3 linked regions of the Homo sapiens genome follow. The protein of the gene in region 1 purifies or fractionates together with the protein of each later gene. This does not show direct contact. Each region holds a gene or a part of one and is shown in the gene's direction. Other genes may lie near its edges.

Region 1 (9,059 bases):
TACAGTGCCAGCCACGTGTGCAAGTTTAAATTTTCTAATTACCACATTAAAATAGTAAAAACCAGGTGAAATTAATTTTAAGAAAATACTGTATTTTATATATATATCTCCAAAATATTATTTCAGCATATAACCAGTGTAAAAACTATAAATGAGATCATTGACATTTTTTTTCATACCACATTTTTAGAACCCTGTGTGTGTTTACACTGACAGCACATTCCACTTGAGACCAGTGCTGCGGGACTGGGGAGTGCAAGCGTCAGGGTCCCAGCCGAAGCCCTTTAGCTTGGGACTTCACAGCCACAGCCTGAGTCCCAGCTCACAACTCCAGACCAAATTCCCCTCCCAGCTCATGTGCTGCGATCAAGACAGATGCCACACATGGCCTGGATCCCCACCCCCCTGGCCTGCTGTGTTGGCTGGGCTTTTCCTTGGAGCATGGCCCCTGGTGCTTCTGCCACTCCTGCCTCCCTGCCCACCCCCGAAACCCCATCCCTCAGAGGGACCGGGTATTTTTCAACATCCTCATCCAGATCAAGGCCCCATTGACATTGGAGAGAATTCAAGCCCAACAGGGAATTCCATTACTTATCATTGAGCACTGACTAAGATTTTTTTTTTTAACTAGACTTTTTCTGAAACAAAAATATACCTTATAGTGCAGAAACTGGACTGCATAATTTTTATTCTTGTATTTATTTAATTAAATGTTCTAGGTATTTCTTTCTTAATTTGAAAGACAGGAGAAAAATGTGTTCTGTTCTCTTCCTCTTTTGTCAAACCCAATCCAAATAAGCCAGAGTCATGTAAGTTAAATGACTGTGCTTCCCACACTGGCCTGGGGTCTGAGACAGGCTGGTGCCCTGTTCCTTAGAACGCTTGGGAGTGGCCCTGCAGGCTGGTCGTCGGAGCCAGGTGATGTGTGTCTGTGGAACGGGAGACAGCATGCTCGCTTTGGGGTCTGATGGGCCCGTCTGTTCCCCTGGCACTGGTTCGGCTGTGTCTCTCCGCCTCGGAGTCCTTGAAGTTGTTCTCTGTGGGGGTACACTTCCCCAAACATCCTCTTAGCCTGATATTTGCTGTCTTTCTGTCCTTCTGTCTTGCTCAGCTGTCCAGCACCAGCAGAGGAAGAGGCCTTTCTTGGCCATCCTATTCAACATTGAAATCACTAGAGTCCCCTTCTCCCCAGCACGTTCTCTTCTCTCCCTGGTTTATTTTTCTCCACAGCACTTATCATCATCAGATCACATAAATTTCACTGTCTTCTCATCCCACTTGAACCTAAATTTCATGAGGGAAAGATGCCTGTTTTAATTTATATTGTATCAGTGCCTGGCATATGGTACGCACTCAATACTGGATGGATGGATGGGACTTCAGGCAAGTTTCTTGACCTCTCTAAGCTTCTTTTCTCACTGATAATATGGCGACAATCCCTGCCTTCCTGTAGGGAGACAGGCATGACTGCATTTTCCATTTTCCATGCGAGGCAATTTGGTAACATCTGTAAAAATCATAAATGTATATATCTTTTGGCTCAGTTACTCCACTGGGAGTTTATCCTGTAGGTACATTACTCACACATGTGAAAAGTGCGTGTGTGCAAGGGCATTCATTGCTACATAGATGTCCATCAGTGGGGCACTTCCACAATAAACCACAGTTTATCCAAACAGTTGAATACTCTGCAGCTTTAGAAAAGAATGAGGATGCTGTCTTTGTGCCCATACAGACTGATGTACAAATACACTTGGAGGCTGGGCATGGTGGCTCACGCCTTTAATCCCAGCACTTCGAGAGGCCAAGGCAGGAGGATTGCTTTGCTCCTGAAGCCAGGAGTTTGAGACCAGCCTGGACAACATAGCGACACCCTGTATTTACAAAAAATATAAATTTTTAATCAGCTGGGTGTGGCGACACTCACCTGAAGCACCAGCTATACTCAGGAGGCTGAGGTGGGAGGATTGCTTCGGCCTGGGAGGTCAAGGCTGCAGTGAGCCGTGATTGCACCACTGCACTCCAACCTGAGTGATGGAGCGAGACCCTGTCTCAAAAAAAAAAAAAAGATATGGAATGAGAAAGCAGAGGTGAGACAGTGCATAGTATGCTCCCTTTGGTATGAAAAAGAAGAGTGGATAAATGCGTATTCATATTTGCCTTGTACATGCACAAAGACACTCTGGAGAGAGAAATGAGAAACTAGTACAGTGACTCAGGACAGAGGATCCGGAATGGAGTAGAAGAATGTAAGGCTTTCTACTGTATACTTTTATGTGAATTAATAATGTATTACCCATTCACACAAAAAGCGTATCTTGAAAGGTAATTTTGAGGCTTAGAGAGCATGGGTGTAAGCCTCTACCAGTGGCCAGCACCCACAGTAGACACTCTGATTGGAAGTGAGGGCCAGCACGCTGCTGTTGCTGCCCACAGACACTGCTGCCTGCCTGCCACTCACCCTGATATTGCTGAGACACAGGGCGCCCCCAGAGAAGCACGTGTTTTCCCTGCTGTCAAGCACATGATTGACAGAGAAAAACAATGGGTAAGGCAAGTGAGAAACCCTTACCACAATACAGGTGGATCCAAGGTCGGTTTTTTTTTTTTTTGGTCTGCGGTTGCTTAAACTGGTGTGCTCAGTCCACCATTGCCAGTGTGTCACAGTAACATTTAATTAGGCCCCCACAGGGGGATTGAAGTAGATTGGCACAGGATGTTATCTGTAAGTTACATCCATGTGTCTACTTAGGGTCGTCTCAGTGCACTGTTTTTTTTTGTTGTTGTTTCTTTTGAGATGGAGTCTGACTTTGTCGCCCAGGCTGGAATGCAATGACGTGATCTTGGCTCACTGCACACAGCCACCGCCTCCTGGGTTCAAGTGATTCTCCTGCCTCAGCCTCCAGAGCAGCTGGGATTACAGGTTCGCACTACCATGCCCAGCTAATTTTTGTATTTTTAGTAGAGACAGGGTTTCACCATGTTGGCCAGGCTGGTCTCGAACTCCTGACCTAAAGTGATCCACCCTCCTCGGCCTCCCAAAGTGCTGGGATTACAGGCGTGAGCCGCCGCGCCTGGCCACAGTGCAGCTTCTTAATACGGGAGTGAAGGTTTTTAATGTGTTTTGTCATTGCAGTAACATTTATTTTTAATGGTGCTATAAATGCTGTTCATACCTCACTATTGCAAAGCAATACTGTTTTTACTTGATCATACTAGTTTTTGAGTTCTCATGCAGTTTTTTGTTGTGTTTTTTAAGGCCCAAAATAAAATTTACTCCTAACCGTGCTGCTAGAAGTTTTTATGTCCTGAAATTTCTCCACACATGGTAAATAGAGTAACAATGAAGTGATCCTAGAAAAACTGGGATTTGATTTGGTTCTGGTGAAATGTAAGGTGCAGGAATTGGGAGCCACTGTACCAAAATCAGGACAGCAGTCTGGCTTCCCAGGCCTGAGTTAGCTGGTGTAGGCCTGCCTGACAAGGCCAGTGATGGAGCGAGCTGCAGACACCCTTAGGCCCTGGGCGATCAGGTACAGTTGTGTTTGTGGGATCAAGAGTGCTGGGGTAGTCTGGGCCCAGTGGGCACAGCAAGGTCTGGCAGAGCTGTGATGGGGGAGTGGAGGCCTCTTAATCCACCGTTCACCATCCCATCATCCTTGCACCTCCCTCCACCATCAAAAAAAAGCCCTGCTCTGGCCATGTAAATTATCTCTGTAACCCCTTGCTGAGAAAATTGCACGAAGGTCTAATGGAAATCCTGCCAGAGCAGCGCTGGGTTTTAGGTTGTTGGCATTAGTGCAGGTCAGGTGCTGTTTATAGGTAGGTCACCAGGCAGGAGGATAAAGAGGAGGTGGGGGATGAAAATACTGGCTGTGTCCCCAAGGCTGGCTTGCCACGTGCCTATTAATTTAAGAGGACCAGCCATGCCGTTTTACGGCAGTAAGCAGTGACACCTGCTGCTGAGTAACTGCCCAATGCATGGTCCCCAGCCCTGGGCCCGCATGCTGTGTGGCGTTCAGGCCTCCGTTCTTCCTGCCTGGGGTCCTTTGTTAGCAGCCTACTTTCTAGGGTCTAATGTTCATGCAGTGAGCTTGCATGGCTCATTAATTTCTTTCCCAGCCGTTCTTTTAAAAATCAAGTCGTCTTATTTCTGTAATTCTCTGTAAAGATGTAGCACACATGGCGGGCACATGGCCTCAAAGCCACCCTGGCAGAAGTCGGCATGTTTCTTGGCAGATTCTGCCCCTGTGTGCCCAGTACCCCTCTGAGACTTGAGTCAGGGACTCCCCACCTGTTAGGTGAAGCGGTGGTGTTCAACTTACCTGGGGCTGCTGGGCTCCTAAAGGGACACTGTTACTGGGGCGATGGTGCAGTGGAGAGCACTTGGCAGTAGGAGCTTCTAGGTAGAACTTGGGAGTCTTGGGACTTCTGGATGTGTTCTGGTGATGCGATTTTGCGCTCAGACGGTCCAGAAAGGGACCGCCCCTGTGGAAGGTGTTGCGCTGGCATCCCCATCACAGGATTGATTGGCAAGCAGGGAAAGAGACTTGTGCCTTTGGTGGGGCAGGTATTTTTGCCCTTCGTTATTTGGGTTTTAAAGGCAAGACTACTGACATACGCCTGTTAAAGAAACATCTCGGTCAGGGGTCCAAAGTTAGCATATGGAGCAGAGTGATGGTAATGAGACACACACTCCCGAATGAATCGTCAGTGTATCTCTCTCAACACCAGCAGAGAGGGTTTCGAGGAGATGCTTATGGAGATGCACGTGGGGCGGTGCATGGGAGTGAGGCGGCCTCAGTGGGCCCAGGCTCTGTTTTGGAGTTGTGTGTGCTGCCAGCCATGGACTGTGGATTTCACTCCCCACCTTCGAGCCGCCAGAGCAGAGGGGCAGATGGAACCAGCCCATTACCTACAGTGACAGTAAAGGCAGAGGAACCCGTGAGGGTGAGGCAGAGCCCTCCTGGCTGTGAGGACTCACAGGCTTCACCTGCAGGTCCTCGTAGAGGGGATACCACATGCAGATGCAGTGACCCCCAGATTCAGATGCACCTACTGTCAAGGAAGAAAGATCCCAGCAGGGCTGTTCCCTCCGCAGTGAACCCTGTGCCTGGCATCGTGTCTGGCACTTAGTGGCCCCTCTGCAAATATCTGTTGGCTGCCTGACTCCCTCCGTGAAAGCCAGCAGCCTAACACCGATTTTAGAAAGTAATTCTAAATTACCCCAAAAGGGCCAAAACGCTCCTTGCTGGCTTGGCTGACTGCAGGATAAAATGTGGAGGGCCTGGATAGACTTGCCCCTTCCCATCGAGAAGCACACAAGTTTTCTTGCTGGAAAAGTAGACCTTTGAGACTTCTCCGTTGTGCTAACTTGTTCTCCTTTGTCTTCACAGAGACTAATAGACAAGTCACGAGTTACCTGTGTCAAATGGGTTCCCGGTTCGGAAAGCCTTTTCCTAGTAGCCCACTCGAGTGGGAACATGTACTTATATAATGTGGAGCACACTTGTGGCACCACAGCCCCCCACTACCAGCTTCTGAAGCAGGGAGAGAGCTTTGCCGTGCACACTTGCAAGAGCAAATCCACGAGGAACCCTCTCCTTAAGTGGACGGTGGGCGAGGGGGCCCTCAACGAGTTTGCTTTCTCCCCAGATGGCAAGTTCTTAGCGTGCGTGAGCCAGGACGGGTTTCTGCGGGTGTTCAACTTTGACTCAGTGGAGCTGCACGGTACGATGAAAAGCTACTTTGGGGGCTTGCTGTGTGTGTGCTGGAGCCCGGATGGCAAGTACATCGTGACAGGTGGGGAGGACGACTTGGTGACAGTCTGGTCCTTTGTAGACTGCCGAGTAATAGCCAGAGGCCACGGGCACAAGTCCTGGGTCAGTGTTGTAGCGTTTGACCCTTATACCACTAGTGTAGAAGAAGGTGACCCTATGGAGTTTAGTGGCAGCGATGAGGACTTCCAAGACCTTCTTCATTTTGGCAGAGATCGAGCAAATAGTACACAGTCCAGGCTCTCCAAACGGAACTCTACAGACAGCCGCCCCGTAAGTGTCACGTATCGGTTTGGTTCCGTGGGCCAGGACACACAGCTCTGTTTATGGGACCTTACAGAAGATATCCTTTTCCCTCACCAACCCCTCTCAAGAGCAAGGACACACACAAATGTCATGAATGCCACGAGTCCTCCTGCTGGAAGCAATGGGAACAGTGTTACAACACCCGGGAACTCTGTGCCGCCTCCTCTGCCACGGTCCAACAGCCTTCCACATTCAGCAGTCTCAAATGCTGGCAGCAAAAGCAGTGTCATGGACGGGGCCATTGCTTCTGGGGTCAGCAAATTTGCAACACTTTCACTACATGACCGGAAGGAGAGGCACCACGAGAAAGATCACAAGCGAAATCATAGCATGGGACACATTTCTAGCAAGAGCAGTGACAAACTGAATCTAGTTACCAAAACCAAAACGGACCCTGCTAAAACTCTGGGAACGCCCCTGTGTCCTCGAATGGAAGATGTTCCCTTGTTAGAGCCGCTGATATGTAAAAAGATAGCACATGAGAGACTGACTGTACTAATATTTCTTGAAGACTGTATAGTCACTGCTTGTCAGGAGGGATTTATTTGCACATGGGGAAGGCCTGGTAAAGTGGTAAGTTTTAATCCTTAATGCTGCACCAGATCTAGAACTTGAATAGGTAGTGACTTTTTTCTTTTTCGTGGGAGGGGTGGGGTGTACAATGAATGTGAATGACACTTCTTATTCTTAATGTAAATCTCAATGCATCAGAGCCATAATTTTGGATACTGCATGCCATGTAATTCTGAATCATTTGATAATTTACCTTAGAGCATTTAAAAAAATATAATCAAACTAATTGCCAGCCAAGTCAGTCATCCTCCTGGGAGTATATAGAGTCCCAAGGTTAGCGCTCCTGTATTAGACTATTTCAATTTTAGGAAAATCATGACCATGTGGGGAAACAATGACTTTAAAATGCTGAAATTAAAATTTATGCTTTAACTGGAATATTTTTTGCTTAACTACTCAATTAGAATATTGTACACCTGATCAATGTGTGTTCAGCACAGATGGCCATGAATTGTCATTTATAGTCCAATTTTTTATCTTAATCATAAAATGTTTAGGAATCTATGAAATTTAACTTTAGGAACAAAACGTTTAGCAGGGTTGATTGATATTATTTTTACATTGTTCTGGCAATCCACAGAAAGAGAAGAGCCTTAATTTTTAAAACCCATTTTAGTCATTTTATGACAATTAAAGTTGTTTAATAAACATCTTTTTTCAAAGAAGCAGTTTGTAGCACTTTGATTGAGGTTCTGTGTACTAAGATACCCGTACCTCACTCAGAGCCTGACAGTTCGTGGGAACTGCGGGCCGAGGACGCCAACAGCATTGCAGAAGTGCCTCTTGCCACATAAGCGAAGACCTTTTCTTCAGATGCACTTTGCTTGTGTGTTTTCCCAACAAGGGAAAAGGAGTTTTTTGGTTTTTTGCCGGGGGCGGGGAGGTGCGGTGGGGGAGGGGGATTGGGTCAGAAAGGCACGTGACTCCTCCGCGCTTTGTTTCGTAAAGCCTGAGACTCCCCGAGTCTTCCGACTTCTCCCTGACATGGCCCTCGTTTGGGCTTCGTCCCCCGCAGAGGAAGCGGAAGTGCAGGTTTCCCCTCTCCTTGTTCTTGGATGGCAGCTGTGGTTCCGGGATTACTCTTGGGATGCTGACGCTGGCCATGTGCGTAGGCTTCGTCCTCAGTGGCTCCCACCCTAGCGCCTCAGCCCAGGACCTGGTGGCCTGTGGCTTCCTCGGCAGTGGGAGGCTCTGCTGCTCCCCCGGAGACCGCAGTCTTTCACCCTCACTCTCTACTGCTGCACCAGGAGCTGCTTTTCAAATTCTGGTTTTCCCAGTGGGTGAGATGGCCCCTTGAACTATGTATTCCATGTCAAGATGGTGGTTATCTTACTTGTTAACTCATTTTGGGCATTTAGGTTGTACACCTTTGTAATTAAATATAGAGACAACGATCACTTAGACCAGTTTGCGTAGTGAATATGATTCAGCAAAGTGAAGACCTGGTGGCTTTTCTTTCTCTGCAGTGTAAAGACCCTGGTAGCTGAAGCAGCAGCTCCCTGTGCTCTTAACGCAGCCCTCCCAGGAAAGCCGGGCCAGGTTCCCAGGCCTGCTTCCCATCTGCAAACATGTCACGGTGGCGCCATCCACCCTGTGCCCATCGTGGGCCTTAACGCAGTGGTTTCTGTTGAGTGTGATGGCATGGCCGCGTGCTGCCACCTGGGAACCACAGCAGCCTTCAGGTGCATCTCTCCTGGCTGTGCCTTTCACATCCCTGAGCACTGCTCCTAGGAGTATTCGTGTCCTCTCTACCTGTGGAATACGGGCCTTTGTTCCTAAAGGTGAACTGATCTAAGGTAGCCATGACAGCCATCCTTGTGGACAGTTTCCGCTTTGGAGGCCAAATTGGGTCATGTGGAGAGATTAGTGATGAACGCTCCATGTGCAACTTTTGCACCTACATAGTTGTAAACGTTCAGTTTCAAATGCTTCTGAGGCATTGAGTATGCAGTTTCAAAATTCAGGACTTAGTATTTGGCCTAAATAGAGAGTGGCCGATCCCAAGTAAGTAGCATTTATGGTGACATTTCTGGCGACCTTGCAGTTCTGAAGGTGTTGCCCTGGACAGGGAAGCCGTGGGGGTGTGTGCCCGAGTAACCAACGTGACCGACTGGGGACTCTCTGATTTCTCCCCCTTCTTTAAAATTCTCAGTCGCAGTGGCTGGGATGAAAGAGGGATTGCAGGGGTACACTGACAGGTGACTTAGGAGTCATTTGCTGATAGGAACCAGGGGTGGGAGAGGCAAGAGGAGGAGGTTATGTTTCCTTTGAAAACAACTCCGAAGTGTGCTGTCTAGTATGGAGGCCTGTGTGTGTCTTTCTCCCCCCACCTCCAGTTTTAAACACTATGATATTGTCAGTTTTGGATTTGAGGCTTGATAACAATCTTTTTCTTCCAGTTTT
Region 2 (10,794 bases), about 49 Mb from region 1:
TTGAGGAACTGCCGAACTGTTTTTCAAAGCAACTTACCATTTGCTTTCCCATCAGCAGCGTATAAGGGTTGCAATTTTTCCACATCCTAACCAACACTTGTTATCATCTTTTTTATTATAGTCCTTCTAGTAGGATGTGAGGTGTTATCTCATTGTACCTTAATTTGTATTTCCCTGCTGATAAATGATGTTGAGAATATTCTGTGTGGCCATTTGTATGTCTCCTTTGGACAACTGTATATCCATATTCTTTGCCCATTTTTAGTTAGGTTATTTGTCTGGGGTTATTGTTGAATTGTAATAGCTCTTTATTTATTTTTTATACAAGTCACTGAAAATATATATGATTTGCAAATATTCTTCCCATTCTATAAATTGCTTTTTCACATTTTGGTTGCTGCCTTTAAAATATAACTATTTTAAACTTTGATAAAATCCAACTTAACTATATTTTCCTTTGTTGCTTATGCCTTGATGTCTTATTTAAGAAGCCATTGCCTAATCCAAGGTCATAACGTTTAGTACTATATTTTCTTGGAGGAATTTTATAGGTTTAGACCTTACATTTAAGCCTATGCTGTATTTAGTTAATTTTTGTATATGTTGTACGTGGCTGTCCTTTCTGATGTTTTAAATATAAGCCTCCTGTATCAGATAGATGTTCCTTAAGAATTTGTGACATGTGTTATACATTTACATGCCTGTCTCAATGTCCTACACTGTGCTAGACACATAGTTACTGTGTTTGTACGTGTGAACATTTGATATTTTTGTTGAGGTGAAGAATATTTCACAAGATGTCCTGGTGTTCAAACTTAAGTCGGTGGGGGGAGGTGGGGGAAAAGGTATCCCGAGCATGGTTTCCTACATAAAACTTTCTGTAACTAAAGCAGTAAATGTAAGCAGTGCATTTCTTTCCCCTTAAAGATTTCACTGTTATCTCGGAGCCCTTCTTTGGTCTGTGAAAACAGCCATATTCCTAGCAAATCTTGTTTCTCAGTTTGCCAGTCCTTTTCTTGCTAATTACAGTGACTGCCCATTTCTGTCAAAAAAGTGGCTTTTGCAACCTCCCTTCCCATTTAGATCACATTCCACACCCCTGGATTTCTACCTCTTTAGTAGCGTTATTGGTGTGTGCCATTTTTGGCAATCCCCAAGACAAAGAAAGAATTCTACCCACCTGGTATTTGACAAGAATAATTCATTACATTTCATCTTGCTGGCCTCATGTCGCATTTTCAAGTCCCCCCTTACACATTTCACACCCACACAAATCCTCTCTTATTTTCTCCTACCCCCATCCTCTCTCCTTCTTTCAAACCCAGGGGTTATATTTTGAATTGACCTTCTAGAAATATAAAGCACAGTGCAAGTAGGCACAGAAAAAAAGCTAAAGTCAACCTGAGCATTACCAAGCCCGAGGGCTGCATTTGACGGCAGATCTGTGAGGCACTGCTTGGTCTAAATCTAAGTCCAGTGCTTGGTACCTTATTTGGATATTGCTGCTTTCATTGCTTGAGCTGTTCTTCCAAACACTGGCGTACTCAGCTACTTTTCAGTATGATGTAAGTACCACAAGCATTGCATTGTCCTAGTGGTTCTAGCAGGGGATTTCAGATAAGAGTCTACATTTGAATACATTCTAAATCTTAGGTAGAAGTGAATATTTAAGAAATGCACTTGAAAGCGTCACTTGATAAACTGGAAAAAAAAAATCCCAGTTTCAGAGAGGTGAGGCTGACTCCTCTTTAATCTTCAAAGCAAGTGACAGCTTGAAATAGTCAAAAAGAAGGCCTGAAGGGATCAGCTGCACCCAACCTAATCTAATTATTCTTCCACTGGTACTTAACTGAAGGTCCTTGCCTTCCTGTGCATTAATTGCTCAAATATATACTGCTGACTTTCTAAAGCCAGTAAAGTGTCTTATGAAGCTATACTCAAGCGATTTCAAATGTTAAGAAATAGGGCAGTTATTCACAATATTAAAATTCCCCACCCCCACTCTCTGTCACTAAATGTAGAGAACATTCGTAGAAGTGGATTCAGGAAAGCACGGTAGTTAGAGCAGTCGGTGCTGTCGTGGGGGTGTTCAGAAAGTAACTCTTACTGGAAAGTGGGAAAATAACTAGAATTTGGAAACCGAGTACAGATGCTCTGCAACTTATGATGAGGTTACATTCTGTAAATTGAAAATATTGTAAGTCAAACATGCATTTCATATACCTAACCTACCGACGAACATCACAGCTTAACCTAGCCTATCTTAAATGTATCCAGAACATTTACATTAGCCTCCAGTTGGGCAAAATGATCCAATATGAAGCCCATGTTATAGTAAAGTGTTGACTATCTCATGTAATTTATTGAATACTGTACTGAATGTGAAAAACAGAAAGGTCCTAGGGGTATTCAAAGTACGGTTTCTACTGAATGCCTATCGCTTTCACACCGTCATAAACAAAAAATCATAAGTCAGGGACCATCTGTATTAAAAGAGTTTCTAAACCATGACAGTTGGCTTCAACAATTTTGTCTGAAGGAAAGGGAATATTCAGAAAGGGCATAGATATTTTAGGTTCTAGAAAGGCATGTTTAGAAAGCCATAATTTTTTTGTAGCTTACTGGAGCATGTGCAAATGTCATAAGATACAATTCTTAGCTTCATTCCCAGCTCCATTTTAAATCTCTACTCCAAAATAAATAAATAAATCTCTACTCCACCCCTCTAAGCCTCCCAATCCCCACCCACCTTTTTTTTCTTGTTTTGTGCCACTTATAATGTATACTATCTCACAGTTTATGCATCCTTATACGTTGCCATAAATCTTTTGGGGGATAAAGTGGGGGAAATAAATAAGTATATTTTTAAAGTGGGGATTTTCCCATTGAGATTTGTTTTTTGTTTTTCTGCGATCAATCCAGGCTGGAGGGCAGTGGTGTGAATACAGCTCACTGCAGCCTCCACCTCCTGGGCTCAAGTGATCCTCCTGCCTCAGCCTCCCAAAGTGCTGGGATTATAGGCATGAGCCACTGTACCTGGCCCCTGAGATTTCTCCATGGAACAGACCCACTGTTTCTTTGACATTTGTGTTGGTTTGACACCAGCATGTTTTCCATTTTCTCTGTACCAAGCTATTGTGAATTTGTGGACAATGAAAATAATTTGAAATCTCTGCTCTTAAAGAACTCAAGTTTTCTTTAGAACTATTTAAAAAACACCAAAGGAAACCTCTGAAAATCCTGTCCATCGTTCAGTCAGTAGCTGCTGTATCCAGTGTCTATCATCGTGAATGTCATGGCATGTACAGAGAAACTGAAATGCTGGATGCAATTCTAGGTGGTGGTGTAAAGTTTTTGAGTTGGCAGAAAATAAAGAATAAAAGAAAGAAAAAACTTCCGTGATCTCAAGACCCAGAGAGCTTCTTAACATTTTGCTGTATTTCCTTACAGTCTTTTTCTCTGAACATTTAACGTAAATAAGCTCTTAATTTTATAGCTGCATATCCAGTTCTGCAGTTTTGTGCCCTAACAAGCAATTCCTTAATTTATTAAAAACATTTTCCTGTATATTTTCAACCCCATAATTTACATAAACTCCCTCATCTCCGGACATTCATATTGCTTTCAAGTGAACTATTTGGAACGTCCACGAGTAGAAATATTGGAGAGTAGACAGATAAGAGACTGAAGGCATCAATTTCTCCATGATAACTAGCTAAAAACACTGTAGTGGTTTTCCCTATTTTTTTTTCTGCCAAGCCTTTGGCATCTGACTAAATTTTGCTGCTTTCACTCCTTTCTGAGTTCCACCCCTTTCTTGAGGCCTCTCATCTTGTTTCCCAGTAATGTTAATGAACAAAAGGTTATCTGCCTAGCGAGTTCCTTTTCCAAGCGTTTGAGACAATTCGACAAGATTATGAGACTGCGAACTGGAGTCTTTTATCTTTAAAAGGTATTTTAATCTGAGCCTTCTTGACGTTTATTTTCTGAGCCCATGAATTTGCTAGCGAGGCAGTTTCTCTGGTTTGCTGTTTCTGAAAGGAGTTCCCTCAACAGAGTACAACAGTTAATGGGGGAAGTGGAAACAAAAGCGGGAAGCAGGAGGACCGTTCCCCATCACTAGCCAGTCTTCAACAGGTGAAGTTGTTTAGCTCTTCCTGGTACCTGCAGGCACCGTTCCAGAAGTATTAAAATCCAAGGTGTGGCTGAGGGTGGGATGGAACATGTATCTCCATCTAACAGCTTTAATAGACTGTTAGTTCTAACTTGCATATAAAAACACACAAATAAGTACAAAGAGCTGGAGAAGCTGGGGAAACAGTTTCTGAGTAAAACCTGTGGCACTAGGTTGTGTCTTTCCTTTCCCCTCAGGCAAGAGCATCATCTGTTTGACTGGCATCTGGCTGGAGCGTCCGAAGGGGTTAAGAACGCTTGCAAACTCCTGGGAGTCCAGTAGGAGTTGCTGATGGTGCCGGACATTGCTTGCAAAGCAATTTTTGTGGTTCACCTCCCTCGGGGTTTTCTTATTCTTTTGTAGGACATTCAAGGAGTTGGTTTGGGCATTTACTTTTTAAAGTTTCTCCGTCCCAGACTCCTCTCTCCAGCTCCCGGGGTGCGGCACCTCTCACCTCCCTGAGGCTTTTTGTCTCGCTGCAGGCGTGGGGAGGGGGCGAGAGGACTTTGTTCTCCGAAAACGACCTTGCCCTGGGAATTTCCTGGGGCCGTTTCTCACGGACAAGCCCCCTCTCCCTGCTGCCAGCGCGGACACACGCCGCGGGGGCCCCAGTCCAGCCTGAGCTCTAGACGCCCCGCCGGCCACCAGCGCCCCGGGAAAGGCCGCCCGCGCTCCCCCGCTCCCCCTCCTCAGGGCCCGCCGCCTAGAGCCCGGATGTTGGATTCAATTCCTGAGCCGGGTCCTTCATTTCCATAAAAGGGCAGCGCTCCGCGGGGCCGAGATTGCCGCCCCGCCGCGCCCCCCGCCACCCCCGCGCCGCCCCGCCCCACGCCGCCCCGCCCCGCCCGGGACCCGCAGCCCCCTCCCCCGAGCGCGGCGCCGGGAGGGCGGGGGCAGAGGCGAGGCCGGCCGGACCCGCTCAGGGCAGCTCTGCGGGCGGCGAAGGAGGGAGCCAGCGCGCCCAGCCCAGCCAGGCTCGGACAGAGGGGGCGGGGAGAGGGTGGAGCGCGGGGAGCCAGGCGAGGGGCCGCGACGACGGGACTCCATTAGCCGCTCCGGCCACAGGCAGCGCTTCGCCAGCCGAGGAACCGGACGCGGACACCGCCGCCCCGCGAGCCTCCAGCCCCTCGCCTGTTGCCGCGCGAGTCCCGGGCCCGGAGCGCTAGGAGCGCGCGGTGAGGGAGCGGGACCCCGCCGGGACCCGAGGGGGCGCGGCGGGGAGGGGAACGGGGAGTCAGCCCGCGCTGTGTCTCGGGGCCGGCCGGCAGGTGAAGCCCTCCGCGGTCCGCTAGGCGGGGACGGTGTGGGGCGGGCGGCGCCGGGACCGAGGAACGCTGCGGGGCGAGCGGGGCGTAGGGTCCTCCCGCAGCCCCGGCCGCCGCCGCCCTCCCGAGTTTCTGCCGAAAGCCCCGGGTCCTCCACCACCTCCCAGCCCGTGGCCGGCGCTGCGAATTCGGTGGGATTCGCCTTTCTTTGGGGGAGTGACGCTTACGAGAGCCATTTCCTCCGCGCTCGCAGGAAGGAGCCATGGCTCTGGACGGGATAAGGATGCCAGATGGCTGCTACGCGGACGGGACGTGGGAACTGAGTGTCCATGTGACGGACCTGAACCGCGATGTCACCCTGAGAGTGACCGGCGAGGTGCACATTGGAGGCGTGATGCTTAAGCTGGTGGAGAAACTCGGTGAGTAGCATCCCAGCCGCGTCCAACTAATGACTTCCCAGAATTGGTAGGGGGAGGAAAGAGGCTCACGACGGGGGAGGGGCCCATTTGAGAAATCTTGGCATCTCGCAAATGCTTTTTGGAGATGTAAAATCTTTCAGTATTTAAGCAGATAGACCTGTTCCCCTTTGCGTCTTATTTTGTTTTGCTATTCTCTGAATTTTCATATGTAATGATTCGAGCCTCCCAATTATAACCTTAATTGCGTAGTTACGCGGGACGGGGGATGTGTGCCGGGGAACTCGTTAATTCTTAACATTTACTGACAGAACGATAAAAGAATGAGGAAAGTGTGTTGGGAGGGTGATATTACAGTGTCCGTGGTTATCTATGTCTTCAGCATACCTGAATGTTAGTGACGTTTGGTATAGAGAATGATGCAAAATCCATTTAAGAAAAATCTGTGCTGGAAAATGTGCAACTACTGGCGCCAGTGTGAAGTTTCTGTGGCTGTTCTACGTGGTGGAGTGCATTAAAATGTTCCAGTCATCCACTCTTACTAGGGGTGGGGCAGTGCTTGACAAACTTGGTATCCATAGTCCATGCTCGATGTAAGCCGTTTCGAGCGTTCGGTTTTATATTAATAACAAGCCAAGGAAAGAACTTTGTGTTAAAAAGCAGACTTTGTTAAACTAATTTGAGGTTGACGGTGTTTGCTTGAGTACAAATATGTATTGGATTGATATCCGATTTAAAATAATAAGGTATCTTACAGTATGAAGTGTGTGAAGAGTGTGCAGTACACATTTTTGTGATGAATGAAACCATTTTCATCTGGAAGAGTCAGCTAAATAGATGATTTGATCATAAGAGAAATGCTCAGAGAACTATCTTCCTGAGCTTTAAAGAGCCTTTTGTACATAATACAGTTGTGATAAGATGATTATCTGTGTGGCATTGTCTTTTTAGGCTGGAATTGTTTTTTGTTTTGGTGAAGGGGGGTTGGGGACTTTCTGGGGGTTTTTTTCGTCTTTTTTTTTTTCTTTTTTTTTTTAAACACAGCATTCGTTTTCAAGCTACACTGGGAAAGTAGAGAAGTGCTTATTTGTCAGGAAATCTATTTCTTACCAAAGGATTATTGTATGTAAAGGTACTGAAATAGCACTCTGATGCATTTTGCAAAATAAGGCAGGATTCATTTGGGTGGACCTGCTTTGTACCCCTGCAGGAAGTTTTATTATTGAAGGACCAAAGTGAAGCTCCTTACAAGGTAGCCTCTTCCTTAAGACTGCATTGTTTGGCTCCCTGAGATACAGCTCAGGAAAGAAAATCCTCCTAGGTAGCCCAGTGAAAATTAGATTTTGCTGTATTGATTAACCATTTAACTGGCAGTTAACAGTATTTTTATCTGATTTGAATAAATCAGTCACTGTTTGCAAAATATGTATGAACCTTTTTTGTCCAGCTCTGGTATGAGATTATTTAAGAAGGAAAATAGCAAATATTTGGATATTTTGTTTTCAAAGAAAACAAGCATTTTTGTTAGAGCTTTTCTAATTTATGGTAAATGGACCATATTAATACATTGGTCTCAATAGGAGATATTTTTTATATTGCAAAAAAAGGAGCTGTTGAAGGTGACTGAGACAACTTGTAGTTCTCGAAAGCCAGGCTGTAGCTAATGAATAAATAATGGTTTCTATATTTATTTTGCATTGCTTAGGACTGTTTATTATAGAATCACAGTAATAAATAGAAATATAGAGAATAAACTGCAGACAGAAATGATGTTAATTTAAATGACTATAATCTTAATCTTTTAATGCTGATACATTTTTAATTTTTTATGCAGAGAAAAGAAGCCCAACAAGGTAGGAAATGCTGTGCGTATGGAAACCTTACATCTTTTCTGAACTGAATTCATACTGATTCCTCTTATATTTTGAATTCCAAATAGAAAGTGCCTCTGACTTTCCTGTTTGGTAAAAGTAGAGCTAAGTGATGCTTTTGGTTTTTAGGATTAGATGCTTTGAATGGTAAGCTATTTCGTTGCCTATCAGCAAGTAAATAGAGGAGAGATTCGGTAGGGCAGCATTTAAAACATCCACAAATCAGGCTAGTCAAATTAGAAAAGAACTTTGTAATTTTTCAGAGTTGCGTAAAACTGGAATGACCTGCCTTCTGAAGCCCTGACTTATGTCACTGAAGGTATTAAAGGGCAGACTGGATGACTACTTGCCAACAGTGGCTAGAGAGGATCAAAGCAGCTTGCAGAGTCTAGATAAAAGGTGGAGATGGTGGTAGGGATGAGATGGTACAAAGTCTGTTGTCTCAGGTTTGCAGAGCAGTGATGGAAAATTAGCAGACTTGGGCTACTGTGGCCTTGAAGCAGTTATGAACAGAAGACACCAGAGCATTCACTTACATTTTCAAACTCCAGACTGTCTGATATCCTTCTTAATCTGTTGGACGGTATATGAATACCAAAAGCATTATATTTTAAGGTGATTTTCCCAGATAATGTTCAGTAGCAGCAATTATTTCCCTGAAGTCGATAGATCTCAGGATGACCTATTCCCTCAACATTGTATTAAAATTGTGTGTGTGCACATGTGGAAGTTTCTAGGAAGAGGCTTCTTCACTTTAATTTCTCAAAGAGGTCTGTAACAAAAGAAGTCATGACACAATTTTATGGTTTGGCCCTTGTGTGTCAGGTTCATCTTGAAGCTAGGGTTCATCCCAGAGTGCGGCATTTTAATTAAGCACGACATAAGTGTAAATAATGTTTCCTTAATATGTGTCAGTAATATCTTTGTGTTTAGTTAGACTTTTATTATAAATAACGTGTACACTTTGCTTAAGGCCATTAAAACACAATTTTTAGAATTTTGACTTTAATTCAAAGATCTGAAAAGTCTCATTTATTTATTTATTTATTTATTTTTTACTTTTTGAGACGGGAGTCTCACTCTGTCGCCCAGACTGGAGTGCAGTAGCGCGATCCCGGCTCACTGCAAGCTCCGCCTCCTGGGTTCACGCCATTCTCCTGCCTCAGCCTCCCGAGTAGCTGGGACTACAGACACCCGCCACCATGCCTGGCTAATTATTTGTGTTTTTAGTAGAGACGGGGTTTCACCGTGTTAACCGGGATGGTCTTGATCTCCTAACCTCGTCATCCGCCTGCCTTGGCCTCCCAAAGTGTTGAGATTGCAGACGTGAGCCACCACGCCCATCCTAGGTCTCTTTTAAATCTCAGTATAAAACACATTTGTCATTTGCTATTAATCTTTTAAAAGAAAGCAAAAGCATATGTCATGAAGTGGGCTTTGGGGAATTATATCGTAATGTGACAAAGTTTTTGCATTTGTGACTTAGTCTAGGCTGATACTTCATAAATAATTGATCCCCTCAGTGTTTATACTTCATCCAGAAAGTGAAAAACACCCTAAAATCCAGTTTAGGTTGGGTACGGTGGCTCACATCTGTAATCCCAGCAGGCAGGGAGGCTGAGGCAGGTGGATCACCTGAGGTCAGGACTTCGAGACCAGCCTGACCAACATGGAGAAACCCCATCTCTACTAAAAATACAAAAATTAGCTGGATGTGGTGGCATGTGCCTGGAATCTCAGCTGCTTGGGAGGCTGAGGCAGGAGAATCACTTGAACCTGGGAGGCGGAGGTTGCAGTGAGCCAAAATCACACCACCCAGCCTAAGCGACAGAGCAAGACTCCGCCTCAAAAAAAAAAAGAATTGTGAAAATTTAGTACTGTTTGGTTTGGTTTGAGGCAAGGTCTTGCACTGTCACCCAGGCTGGAGTGAGTGTGTGTTCATGGCTCTTTGCATCCTCAAACTTCTGGGCTCAAGTAATCCTCTTGCCTTAGCTTCCTGAGTAGCTGGAACTACAGGCACGCACCACCACATCTTGCTGACTTTTAAAATTTTTCGTAGAGATGGGTCTTGCTTTGTTGCCCAGGCTGGTCTTGAACTCCTGGCCTCAAGCAGTCCTTCCACCTTGGCCTCCCAAAGTGTTGGGATTACAGATGTGAGCTGCCATGCCTGTTTTTTTTTTTTTAATCAAAGACAAATTTCAAACGTGTATAGTGTTTTTTAAAAGAAAAATTTTAAATATGAAATATCAGGGATAAGGATTATAAAAACAAGACATCAAAATAAAATTGTCTTCAAAAATAAATTTTGTCAAGAAGAGGCCCAATTTTATGGGATTCCTCTGGAGGTCATTGAGAAGTATTAAATCCTTGGCTGGGCACGGTGGCTCATGCCTCTAATCCCAGCACTTTGGGAGGCCAAGGCGGGCAGATCAGAAGGTTAGGAGCTCGAGACCAGCCTGGCCAATATGGTGAAACCCCGCCTCTACTAAAAATGCAAAAATTAGCCGGGTATGGTGATGGGCACCTGTAGTCCCAGCTACTCGGGAGGCTGAGACAGGAGAATCGCTCGAACCCAGGAGGCGGAGGTTGCAATGAGCCGAGATAGTGCCACTGCACTCCAGCCTGGCAGACGCTAAATACCAAGTGGATCTGTTCACTGAGTTTTAGTATCACTTTTTAAAATGTCTTTTTAAAACTTATGTGTACAATTAAATTTCCACCTTTCTATAAAAATTCATTTTAAACGGAGAATAAGGAATTTATTATAATCTGGAGCTCACTGAATGGAAATCTCCAGCCAGCTCTGTGAGCAGAGAGGAAAAAATAGGTGATCTCTAAGTTTCCTCTAGCTCTGATTCTATGAGTAGAGAGAATGTAGAAGTTGGGTTAGATCAAGTCACACAATCTACAAGGGAAAAAAATGCAAATTGGAAGACTCAGGAGTAACTAAAAAGAAACATATGAAGTTGCTTTAGAAAGATTGAGGATTAGGCCGGGAGTGGTGGCTCACGCCTGTAATACTAGCACCTTGGGAGTCTGAGGCAGGTGGATCACCTGAGGTCAGGAGT
Region 3 (10,928 bases), on another chromosome or scaffold:
ATATATTATTTTTATCAGAAAAAATAATTGTAATTTACAAAGCTTAGTTATTTAAAAATATGAAATTTCTAGGAGTAGAAATTATTTATGATATGTTATATGAAAAAGGCAAGATATAAAATTTTTGTAAAACAAATATATGAAACATTTGATAGGAAATTCAGCAAAATGATAAAAGTGATTCTTTCAGATTGCTGGTATTGGTGATGTATTTCTTTATTTTTCACTTTCTCTCCATGTTAACAGCAGTTTATTATTTTTGTAATTTTTAAACCAATAAATCAAAATAAATTAGAACTATTTGTAATAACCTGAAGGTGTTAGTCTCACTTAAGTTATTTTGCTTACCATGTAGAAAGCTTTGCTCAGTCATGGAACAGTGTGAATCACTTGCCTCACAGCACAGTGCTGTGTGTATAATAAGAACTTGATAAATGTTTAGTGGAGATGAGTTAATGTCATGAATGGGTAAGTATAGAAATTTAAAACTGTAAAGAATCTTAGTGATGGGCCGGGTGCGGTGGCTCATGCCTATAATACCAGCACTTTGGGAGGCTGAGGTGGGCAGATCACCTGAGGTTGGGAGTTTGAGACCATCCTGGCCAACATGGAGAAACCCTGTCTCTACTAAAAATACACAATTAGCCGGGCGTGGTGGCGCATGCCTGTAATCCCAGCTACTCGGGAGGCTGAGGCAGGAGAATTGCTTGAATCCAGGAGGCAGAGATTGTGGTGAGCTGAAATCAGGCCATTGCACTCCAGCCTGGGCAACAAGAGTGAAACTCCATCTCAAAAAAAAAAAAAAAAAAAAATCTTTGTGATGATTTAGTACAACCTCATTTTTCATTTTTTACAGCTGAGGGTATTAAAGACTGCTGACATTGACTTACTTAGTATTTTGCCGCTAGTTAGTGGTAAAGCAAGCATCAAGACTAATCCCCCAACTTGAGGCCACTCCTTTTCTAGCCACTTTTTGTACATTAGGTAACAGGAAGATGTTCCTGCCCACAAGATCCAACAGCCCTTGAAACACACTGAGGCAGATCAGGCTTAGTTATAGCAGGAGTAGTTATCTTCTTGAGCCATTGCCTTTCCTGGTATTCCTGGTATCGGTTTCATTTCTCACCAGTCATCTGGCAGTGGACCGTGTCGGCCTTCTGTACTCTGTGGCTGCTGTAGAATAGCACTTCCTTGGCAGCTGCTCAGTCTTGGTGCATTATAGTATTCTGTTGTTTCTTTTTCAGCAAACTAAATAAATTGGAGCAATTGGAGGAACTGAACCTAAGTGGCAACAAGCTTAAAACCATTCCCACAACCATAGCAAACTGTAAAAGGCTGCACACCCTTGTTGCACACTCCAACAACATCAGCATTTTCCCAGAAATACTGCAGTTGCCTCAGATCCAGGTACTTCTGTGTGCTGGAATGATGTCCTTATTGGGGGAAATGGCAGGAGAGTGAATGACATTATTTTCCTTTTATAAAGAAGAAGAAAGGAGTGTGAATGAGATTATTCTTATAAGGAAAAATATTATTGTCTTCTTATGTGCTCCAGTTTGGGACCAGAATTTATGTAATGGATTCCTGGGAAGAAATTAAGTTCCTCTTTGGGGATATAGTAAGAGATTGGACACTTGGGAGTAAAGAACTAAGTCTCTGTGATGTATTTTCTTTTGATTTCTCAATTTTTTCTTAGTTTGTAGACCTAAGTTGCAACGACTTGACAGAAATCCTGATTCCAGAGGCTTTGCCTGCTACATTACAAGACCTTGACCTGACTGGAAATACAAATCTGGTTCTGGAACACAAGACACTGGACATATTTAGGTAGGAAAAAATTTGAAATGGAATCTCTATGTGCTCTTAGCCCACCAGCCATGTGTAGGTCTTCCTTAGTACTGTGGAGATCTTGATTAATTAAAAGAACAGAATGAAGTTAGGCTATAAAGCCCCTAGGTTCTCTTCTTTGATTAAGTTATGAATAGATGTTCTATCCAGTAGTCAACCTGTTTATATTAGGACTACTCCATGGCTACTACCCCCCAACATACTGAATATTTTCACAACAGGCATAGATGTTTTAGGTGGCACAGATTATATAATATCTAAGAGACAATACAAGTTCATCCATTGTACCAAGACTTCATTGTATCAAAATACTTAACATAAATAGATGGTTGGCTAAAACATAGAAATCTTTGTTGTGCTTAGTTTTTTATTGAAACTCCTACCCCTTTGATCCTCCTACCCCTTTCCTTTCTCTCCCCTCCTTCTTTGCCAGTAGTTCAGCATACTACTTTCATCAGTCTCTCTGGAAATGAATCTTAGTCAGTCCATAGATTATTTTATTAAAAGATAATATTATTGGCCGTGTGCGGTGGCTCACGCCTGTAATCCCAGCACTTTGGGAGGCCAAGGTGGGTGGATCACGAGGTCAGGAGATCGAGACCATCCTGGCTAGCATGGTGAAACCCCGTCTCTACTAAAAATACAAAAAATTAGCCGGGCGAGGTGGCGGGCGCCTGTAGTCCCAGCTACTCAGGAGGCTGAGGCAGGAGAATGGCGTGAACCCGGGAGGCGGAGCTTGTAATGAGCAGAGATCACGCCACTGCACTCCAGCCTGGGCGACACAGCGAGACTCCTTCTCAAAAAAGAGAAAAAAAAAAAGATAATATTATTGTTGGCCGGGCGTGGTGGCTCACGCCTGTAATTCCAGCACTTTGAGGGGCCAAGGTGGGTGGATCACCTGAGGTCAGGAGTTTGAGACCAGCCTGGTCAACATGACAAAACTCCATCCCTATTAAAAATACAAAAATTAGCCGGGAGCGGTGGCTCACACCTGTAATCCCAGCACTTTGGGAGGCCGAGGCGGGCGGATCACTTGAGGTCAGGAGTTCGAGACCAGCCTGGCCAACATGGTGAAACCCCGTCTCTACTAAAAATACAGAAATTAGCTGGTTGTTACGGCAGGTGCCTGTAATCCCAGCTACTTGGGAGGTTGAGGCAGGAGAATCGTTTGAACTCAGGAAGCGAAGGTTGCAGTGAGCCGAGATTGCGCCACTGCACTCCAGCCTGGGCAACAGAGGGAGATCGTCTCAAAAAAATAAATAAATAAAATAGAATAAAATAAAGAAATACAAAAATTAGCCGGGCATGGTGGCATACACCTGTAATCTCAGCTGCTTAGGAGGCTGAGGCAGGAGAATTGCTTGAACCGGGAGGCAGCAGTTGCAGTGAGCTGAGGTCACACCACTGCACTCCAGCCTGGGTGACAAGAGGGAGACTCCATCTCAAAAAAAAAAAAAGAATACTATTGTTGGGATAGTTTTTGTAAAATACAGAAGAATATATGGTTTAATCTTCCTTCACCTCCCACAGCCATATCACAACCCTGAAAATTGATCAGAAACCTTTGCCAACCACAGATTCTACAGTTACGTCAACCTTCTGGAGCCATGGACTGGCTGAGATGGCAGGGCAGAGAAATAAGTGAGTATATTGGCCATGGAGACTGAGAAAGAAAAAAGGCAGCCCCTGGCATCTGAGAACTGGCCTGATGCTCATAATAGCTAGGCCATGTTGTTCTGTTGTACACAGACAAATCATAGAACATCAGCGTCAGATAAGATCCCTTTGGGATCATGATAACGTTTTAAGACAAAAACAATACTAATGTGTAGTCAACAGAATACCAAACACCCCCTTTCATGGCTAAGATGGGTAGATGCTACTTTCTTTACCAGTTACAGCTTTATCCTTCTGCTAATTTTCCTTCCCTATAGATAAGTTTTATACCCAGCAATAGAATGGCCTCACTTTCTGATGACACCCAGTCTAGTATGATCCTCTTCCTTAGACCCTCCCCAAAGTGACCAAACCAAAGTCCAAACCCTATACTGGGTTCTTTTCAGCAAGACTTACCTGTATACCCCGGGGTTCCATGGGGTGCACTCTCATTTGCTATAAGGGGTAATAAACTCAACTTTTTCAACCATAGGTGTGCTCTGGTGGTCTTTGACTGATAGGCCTTGACAAAGCTAATCCTTAGTCACTACTAAGAGAAAGTGCTTTATCTTACCAGCCTTTGGCAGCATTGCAAAGCTAATATGTACTGCCCATGAATGCGACTGTTTCCCCTTTCCTTAGGACATTAGCTCTTTCAGATGTTGCTTAATTATCATGTCTAGGGACTTTTCTTACGTGTAGATTACGATTTGCTAGTAGTCTTTGCCACCTTTAATTAATACTTACTTTTTAAAAGAATGCTCCTGGCCAGGCGCGGTGGCTCACACCTGTAATCCCAGGACTTTGGGAGGCCAAGGTGGGCGGATCATGAGGTCAGGAGATCAAGACCATCCTGGCTAACATCTCTACTAAAAATACAAAAAAATTAGCCCAGCGTGGTGGCAGGCACCTGTAGTCCCAGCTTCTCGGGAGGCTGAGGCAGGAGAATGGCGTGAACCTGGGAGGTGGAGCTTGCAGTGAGGCAAGATCATGCCACTGCACTCCAGCCTGGGTGACAGTGCAAGACTCCCTCTCAAAAAAAAAAAAAAAAAGAATGCTCCCTGGAGAATAATATTTTACCAGTAACTTTTCTGTTTTCTGTTTTCATGTTTCTATTATAGGCTGTGTGTCTCAGCACTTGCTATGGATAGCTTTGCAGAGGGGGTGGGAGCTGTGTATGGCATGTTTGATGGAGACCGAAATGAGGAGCTCCCGCGCCTGCTGCAGTGTACGATGGCAGATGTGCTTTTAGAAGAGGTACAGCAGTCAACTAATGACACAGTTTTCATGGCTAACACCTTCTTGGTATCTCACAGGTAAGCAGGTGGGTTGAAAAATCCCTAACTCAGTTCTACTTTTGGAAAATATATTTTTCTAAACCAGAAGGTCAGGGTCTAAATTATGGATACAGGATCAAGGAGAGAACTCACGTTGTTGTCTTCTATGATCATTCTCTATATGAGCATGGAGTGCGGGGACTTCGGCTCTTTCAAAAGCCTGTGGGGGTCATCTGTTTTCTCTGTTGAATCCAAAGGCTGCTGAGGATCTGGGAAGCCCAGAATTTATGTGCAAAATGTTGTGTGTGTATATATATGTGGTTGTACATTTTGAGGAGGAAGGTGGTCAGCTTTCATAAGATTGTCCAAGCAGTCAGTGACCTACAAAACAGTTAACCAAATACTTATCAGATTGATAACGTTTAGAATGCCTCTTTCTGGGGTTTTACCAAACTAATCTTCTAAGTAAAGTATAAGCCACTTAAGGGCAAAAACCATATACAGATGCTCCTCAACTTAGAATAGGGTTACACCCTGATAAGGATGTAAGCCTGACATCATAAGTTGAAAATGTGGTAAGTAGAAACTACATTTAATACACCTAACCTAACGAACATCATGGCTTCACCTAGCCTACGTTAAGTGTGCTCAGAACGCTTACCCCATTAGCTTATAGTTGGGCAAAATCATGTGGTGACACAGGGCACTGTATTGGTTGTTTACCCTTGTGATCAAGTGGCTGGCTGGGAGCTATGGGTCGCTACCTCTGCCCAGCATCATGAGAGAACATCGTACCACATGTCACTAGCCCAGGAAAAGATCAAAATACAAAGTACAGTTTCTACTAAATGCATACAGTATTGCTTTTGCACCATCGTGAAGTCAAAAAATCTTAAGTTGAACCATCATAAGTTGAGGACATCTGTATAACCTAACTGTAATGGAGCATTTGCATGTCAGGTGGACCGATAAAGGATAGGAACAACTGAGAGGTTGTTTGTCAACTTGTATAATCCAGGTTGAAATGGAACAGCTTGGAGCTTGAACTAGTTTTTTTTTTTTTTTTTTTTTTTTCTTTTTTGAGACGGAGTCTTCTTGCTCTGTCCCCCAGGCTGGAGTGCAGTAGTGCAATCTCGGCTCACTGCAAGCTCCGTCTCCCGGGTTCACGCCATTCTCCTGCCTCAGCCTCCCGAGTAGCTGGGACTACAGGTGCCCGCCACCTCACCCGGCTAATTTTTTGTATTTTTAGTAGAGATGGGTTTTCACCGTGTTAGCCAGGATGGTCTCGATCTCCTGACCTCGTGATCTGCCCACCTCGGCCTCCCAAAGTGCTGGGATTACAGGCGTGAGCCACTGCACCAGGCTAATTTTTTGTATTTTTAGTAGGGATGGGGTTTCACCGTGTTAGCCAGGATGGGCTTGAATTAGTTTTATCTGTCATAACACAAAGCAAAGTGTTAGGAAGAAGTCAGTTTTTCAGTAGTATAATTGAGCTAGAGACTTTGCAAAAATAAAGGGTTTAGGAAAGGGAACTCCATTTATGAAGCAACTCAAGCCAGGAATTGTAGCAAGTATTTTCCATGCTATATATTTTATCAGAGAAATTTCCTGGAGAAATGGCTTGCTGAGTGTCTGTAGCCAGAAAATGGCAGAGCTGAGATTTGAAACTAGGTCTTTCTGCTAGTGTCTGTTCCTCGTTAACATTGTTTCCAAGTACAGACGCGTGGATGCCCTGCATATGGGGGAAATGCAAGAATCATGGTCCTTCCCTCGAGGAACTTAGAACCTAAGTGAGTGGTTCTCAAAGTGTTGTTCTAGGAACAGCAGCCTCTCAGCCTCACCAGAAATTGCTTAAAGTATAGTTTATTGGGCCAGCCTCTTACCCACTGATTCAGAAACTCTGGGCCTAGGGCCCAGCAGTCCCTGTTCTGACAAGCCCTCAGGGGATTCTGATGTGTTAAAGTTTGAGAGCCCCTGAATTAGGAAGTCTTTGATCAGACACAAAAGCTATGGAGAAAGATGCAAAAGGGAGATTATCTCCCTTTTGTAAAACCTTTTCCTCAGCGAGAGTGGAAGGCAGAACTGTCTCCACCACCATCAGCCACAGCAAGTCTGCATTTAGGTGGATAAGGGTAAGGCTGGTTCACGATCACATGGTAAAAAAAAAAAAAAAAAAAAAGAAGGGATGTACGTGCAGGACCACCACTTTCTTCTAAAACTAGCCACCACGTCTTCTTTTCCTTTTCTTTCTGAACAGGAAATTAGGAATGGCTGGCCAGAAGTTGGGCTCCTCCGCTCTCCTGTGCTACATCCGCCCTGACACTGCCGATCCAGCAAGTAGCTTTAGCTTGACTGTAGCCAATGTTGGCACGTGCCAAGCAGTCCTGTGCCGAGGTGGGAAGCCAGTGCCCCTCTCTAAAGTCTTCAGCCTGGAGCAGGACCCAGAGGAGGCTCAAAGGGTGAAGGACCAAAAAGCCATCATCACAGAGGTGTGTTCCGCTCCCCGCCAGTCACTTCTGCTCCCCAAATCAGTGGAGGCTGCTTTGTGTAGAGGTGATGAAGGCCCATTTTCTTCCTATCATGCCCTGTAAATTGTATCCAATCCAGATAAAAGTTCAATGCAGATGGTTTCAGCAACAGTACTGGAGGAAAATCTGATCAGTTAGTGACTAGCACAAAGAAAAAGCAAAGTGAATTAGAAATACAAAATCCTAATTTGTGATCCTGTATATTGATAGCTGGGTTGTAAGATGGATGTTAAATATCTGCCTTAGCTAATTTCCAGCTCATCTGGTTTGTTATTCCAAATAGAAGAAAGAGTTCTCTAGTTTGACATCCCCATTCTGAAATGCAAAGTTTCAAAATGTTTTGTGTTTATACTCTATGTGGTGTAGTATGCTCTGGTGTTCTCTTTTGATAATGAAACATCAGTATTTCTACTGTTTTATAGCTTTTCTCCTTTTTTAGAAATTAACATTTTTGCTTTCAGAAGAACTTTAGCAATTACTTGTGAACATTGTTTATCACAAAGTGGAATTCCGTGATGAATTCCGTTCAGATCTTTTGAGAACTGTAAATTGGATTGTTTGTTTCTGTATTGTTGAGTTTTAAGAGTCTTTGTATATTTTGGAAACAAGTTCTTTATCAGATACCTGTTTTGCAAATATTTTCTCCCAGTCTGGGGCTTGTCTTTCCATTCTTTTAACAGTGTTTTTTTGCAGAGCTTTTAGTTTTAATGAAGGCCCACCTGTCAGTTTTTATCTCATGGATCGTGCTTTTGGTATTGTATCTAAAACTCATCGCCAAACCCAAGGTCACCTAGATTTTCTTCTGTGTTATCTTCTAGAAGTTTAGTTTTGTGTTTTACATTTTGGTCCATGGTCTGTTTTGAGTTAATATTTGTGAAAAGTGTAAGCTCTGTATCTATATTCATGTTTTGCATGTAGGTGTCCTCTTGTTCCAGGACCATTTGTTGAAAAGACTATCCTTTGTATGGTCTTTGCTCTTTGATTTTCAGAGATCAGTTGACTGTATTTGTGTGGGTCCATTTCTGGGCTGTTTTGTCAGAATTCTATATTAGAGTTCATCTAAGGAAACAAAATCAAAAACCATCATTTTTATGTGATTGATACTATTAGAATTCTGGAAGTATGAGGCATTAGTTTTGGGAAGCTCTTTCAGTCAAAACAAATGAAAGATAAAAGATAGTGTTTTAAATTTTTAGTTATTTTATTTTTATTTTTTTTAGAGACAAGGTCTTGCTGTGTTATCCAGTTTGGACTTGAACTCCTGGATTAAGTGATCCTCCTGCTTTAGCCTCCTGAGTAGCTGGGACTATAGGCACATGCCACTGCGCCTGGCTTCAGATAACTTTTTGTTTGACTAGTCTTTTTATAGAATTTGGATAATGTTTAGATTTTTCTTTTCTTTTTTTTTTTTTGAGGCAGAATTTCGTTCTTATTGCCTAGGCTGGAGTGCAATGGCGTGATCTTGGCTCACCACAATCTCCACCTCCCAGGTTCAAGCGATTCTCCTGCCTCAGCCTCCCGAGTAGCTGGGACTATAGGCATGCGCCACTATACCTGGCTAATTTTGTGTTTTTAGTAGAGATGGGGTTTTTCCATGTTGGTCAGGCTGGTATCCAACTCCCATCTCAGGTGATCCGTCCACCTCGGCCTCCCAAAGTGCTAGGATTACAGGCGTGAGCCACCGTCCCTGGCCAATGTTTAGATTTTTCTTAGGGGATTGTAGACAAGTAGGAAGTATTTTTATAAATGTTATTTTAGCCACAAGCATTTATTGTTTGTCCATTATTTGCCAAACACCATACCTTTATTATTTTCCTTAATCTTAACAGTAACTCCCATGAATTGTTGGGCCCTAGCCCCAGAGTTTCTAATTCAGTGGGTAGTTGTTAAACTCCCATTTTCATTTTACAGATGAAGAAAGTACAGTTTAGAGTTTATGACAAATTCTGGCGAATAAGCTCAGGTCTTCTCCCAGAGGGTGATTGCAACTGTGATATTAATTTATTGATGACTTTAGAGTTTTGTTTTGTATTTTTTTCGTTTCTTGAAATCAGTACAACAAAGTGTCTGGCTTGTGAGCATTCCCAACCTGCAAGCAGGGTTACTCTGTTTCCTCTAAGTTTTGAATTACAGGGATTTTGATTTGATCGCTATTTATTCTTGATACAGTCCCCAGAGCATAGGTAAATTATGCTGCACATCTCAGACTCCCCTTTTTTAGGCTGAATAACCTTAGAGATTATTTGATGCCTTAACTGCCAAGATTGTCTTTGCCATTGGTATCTTTTCAGTCCCAGCTGACATCCCTTTAAGTGAGAAATCACTTTTAGTGACCTTTCTGTTTCATCCTCTCTGAGAGTACTAGTGATAGAGAATTAATGATAGTTCTGCTTACTGTTTTTCTGTCATGTTTCTCTATTTATAGACATACTGAGGCCTGTTCTTCATGTTAAAGCAAACATCTTTTGGGATGGTGGTGCCTTTTAGTCACTTATTTTTACTTGGCTCTATAGTAACCATATAATATTTTGTCTTTTAGGACTTCTCTACATTTATTTGTGTGCATCCATTTAAAATTATACTAATCCATAGGAAAAATCATATATAAATTGTTTTATTATAGTTCCCTAAGCACTGTGATCTAGAAAGATAAGTTGGCTCTCATCGTTGCTTGTTTCTCAGAATTTGTGTCCTGCTCTTCTGTAGGACAACAAAGTGAATGGGGTAACCTGCTGTACCCGGATGCTGGGCTGTACATACCTCTACCCTTGGATCCTCCCCAAGCCCCACATATCTTCCACTCCGCTGACCATTCAAGATGAGTTGCTGATTCTGGGAAACAAAGCATTGTGGGAACACTTGTCCTACACAGAAGCTGTCAATGCTGTACGTCACGTACAAGACCCATTAGCAGCTGCTAAGAAGCTGTGCACATTAGCGCAGAGCTATGGCTGTCAGGACAATGTAGGGGCGATGGTAGTTTATTTGAATATTGGTGAGGAAGGCTGCACTTGTGAAATGAATGGGCTCACCCTCCCAGGTCCTGTGGGATTTGCTTCAACCACCACTATCAAGGATGCCCCTAAGCCAGCCACTCCATCCTCTAGCAGTGGGATTGCCTCTGAGTTCAGCAGTGAGATGTCCACCTCAGAGGTGAGCAGTGAAGTGGGGTCCACTGCTTCTGATGAGCATAATGCTGGGGGCCTGGACACTGCCTTGCTTCCGAGGCCAGAGCGGCGCTGCAGCCTCCACCCAACACCCACCTCTGGGCTGTTTCAGCGCCAGCCTTCTTCTGCTACCTTCTCCAGTAACCAGTCTGACAACGGCCTGGACAGTGATGATGACCAGCCCGTTGAGGGGGTCATAACCAATGGCAGCAAGGTAGAGGTGGAAGTAGACATCCACTGCTGCAGGGGGAGGGATCTGGAGAACTCACCCCCTCTCATAGAGAGTTCTCCTACCCTGTGTTCTGAGGAACATGCTAGAGGGTCGTGTTTTGGGATCCGAAGACAGAACAGTGTGAATAGTGGCATGCTCCTGCCAATGAGCAAGGACAGGATGGAGTTACAGAAGTCTCCCTCCACCTCCTGCCTCTATGGGAAGAAACTCTCCAATGGCT

Evidence for each region.
Region 2: the proteins of WDR20 (region 1) and FERMT2 purify together in Homo sapiens (co-immunoprecipitation; 3 studies listed by BioGRID and IntAct, with this or other methods). This does not show direct contact.
Region 3: the proteins of WDR20 (region 1) and PHLPP2 purify together in Homo sapiens (affinity purification with mass spectrometry; 4 studies listed by BioGRID and IntAct, with this or other methods). This does not show direct contact.

The regions. Positions count from the first base shown.
Region 1 is NC_000014.9:102,203,207-102,212,265, forward strand, and holds the end of WDR20 (WD repeat-containing protein 20), read left to right. Parts: exon of another isoform or gene 1-5,396; coding exon 5,397-6,674; 3' UTR 6,675-7,321; downstream 7,322-9,059. UniProt on the Homo sapiens protein: Regulator of deubiquitinating complexes. Activates deubiquitinating activity of complexes containing USP12. Anchors at the base of the ubiquitin-contacting loop of USP12 and remotely modulates the catalytic center of the enzyme.
Region 2 is NC_000014.9:52,945,476-52,956,269, reverse strand, and holds the start of FERMT2 (fermitin family homolog 2), read left to right. Parts: upstream 1-5,219; 5' UTR 5,220-5,349; intron 5,350-5,692; 5' UTR 5,693-5,701; coding exon 5,702-5,858; intron 5,859-10,794. UniProt on the Homo sapiens protein: Scaffolding protein that enhances integrin activation mediated by TLN1 and/or TLN2, but activates integrins only weakly by itself. Binds to membranes enriched in phosphoinositides.
Region 3 is NC_000016.10:71,649,132-71,660,059, reverse strand, and holds part of PHLPP2 (PH domain leucine-rich repeat-containing protein phosphatase 2), read left to right. Parts: intron 1-1,244; coding exon 1,245-1,407; intron 1,408-1,696; coding exon 1,697-1,827; intron 1,828-3,378; coding exon 3,379-3,489; intron 3,490-4,625; coding exon 4,626-4,820; intron 4,821-7,038; coding exon 7,039-7,270; intron 7,271-10,015; coding exon 10,016-10,928. UniProt on the Homo sapiens protein: Protein phosphatase involved in regulation of Akt and PKC signaling.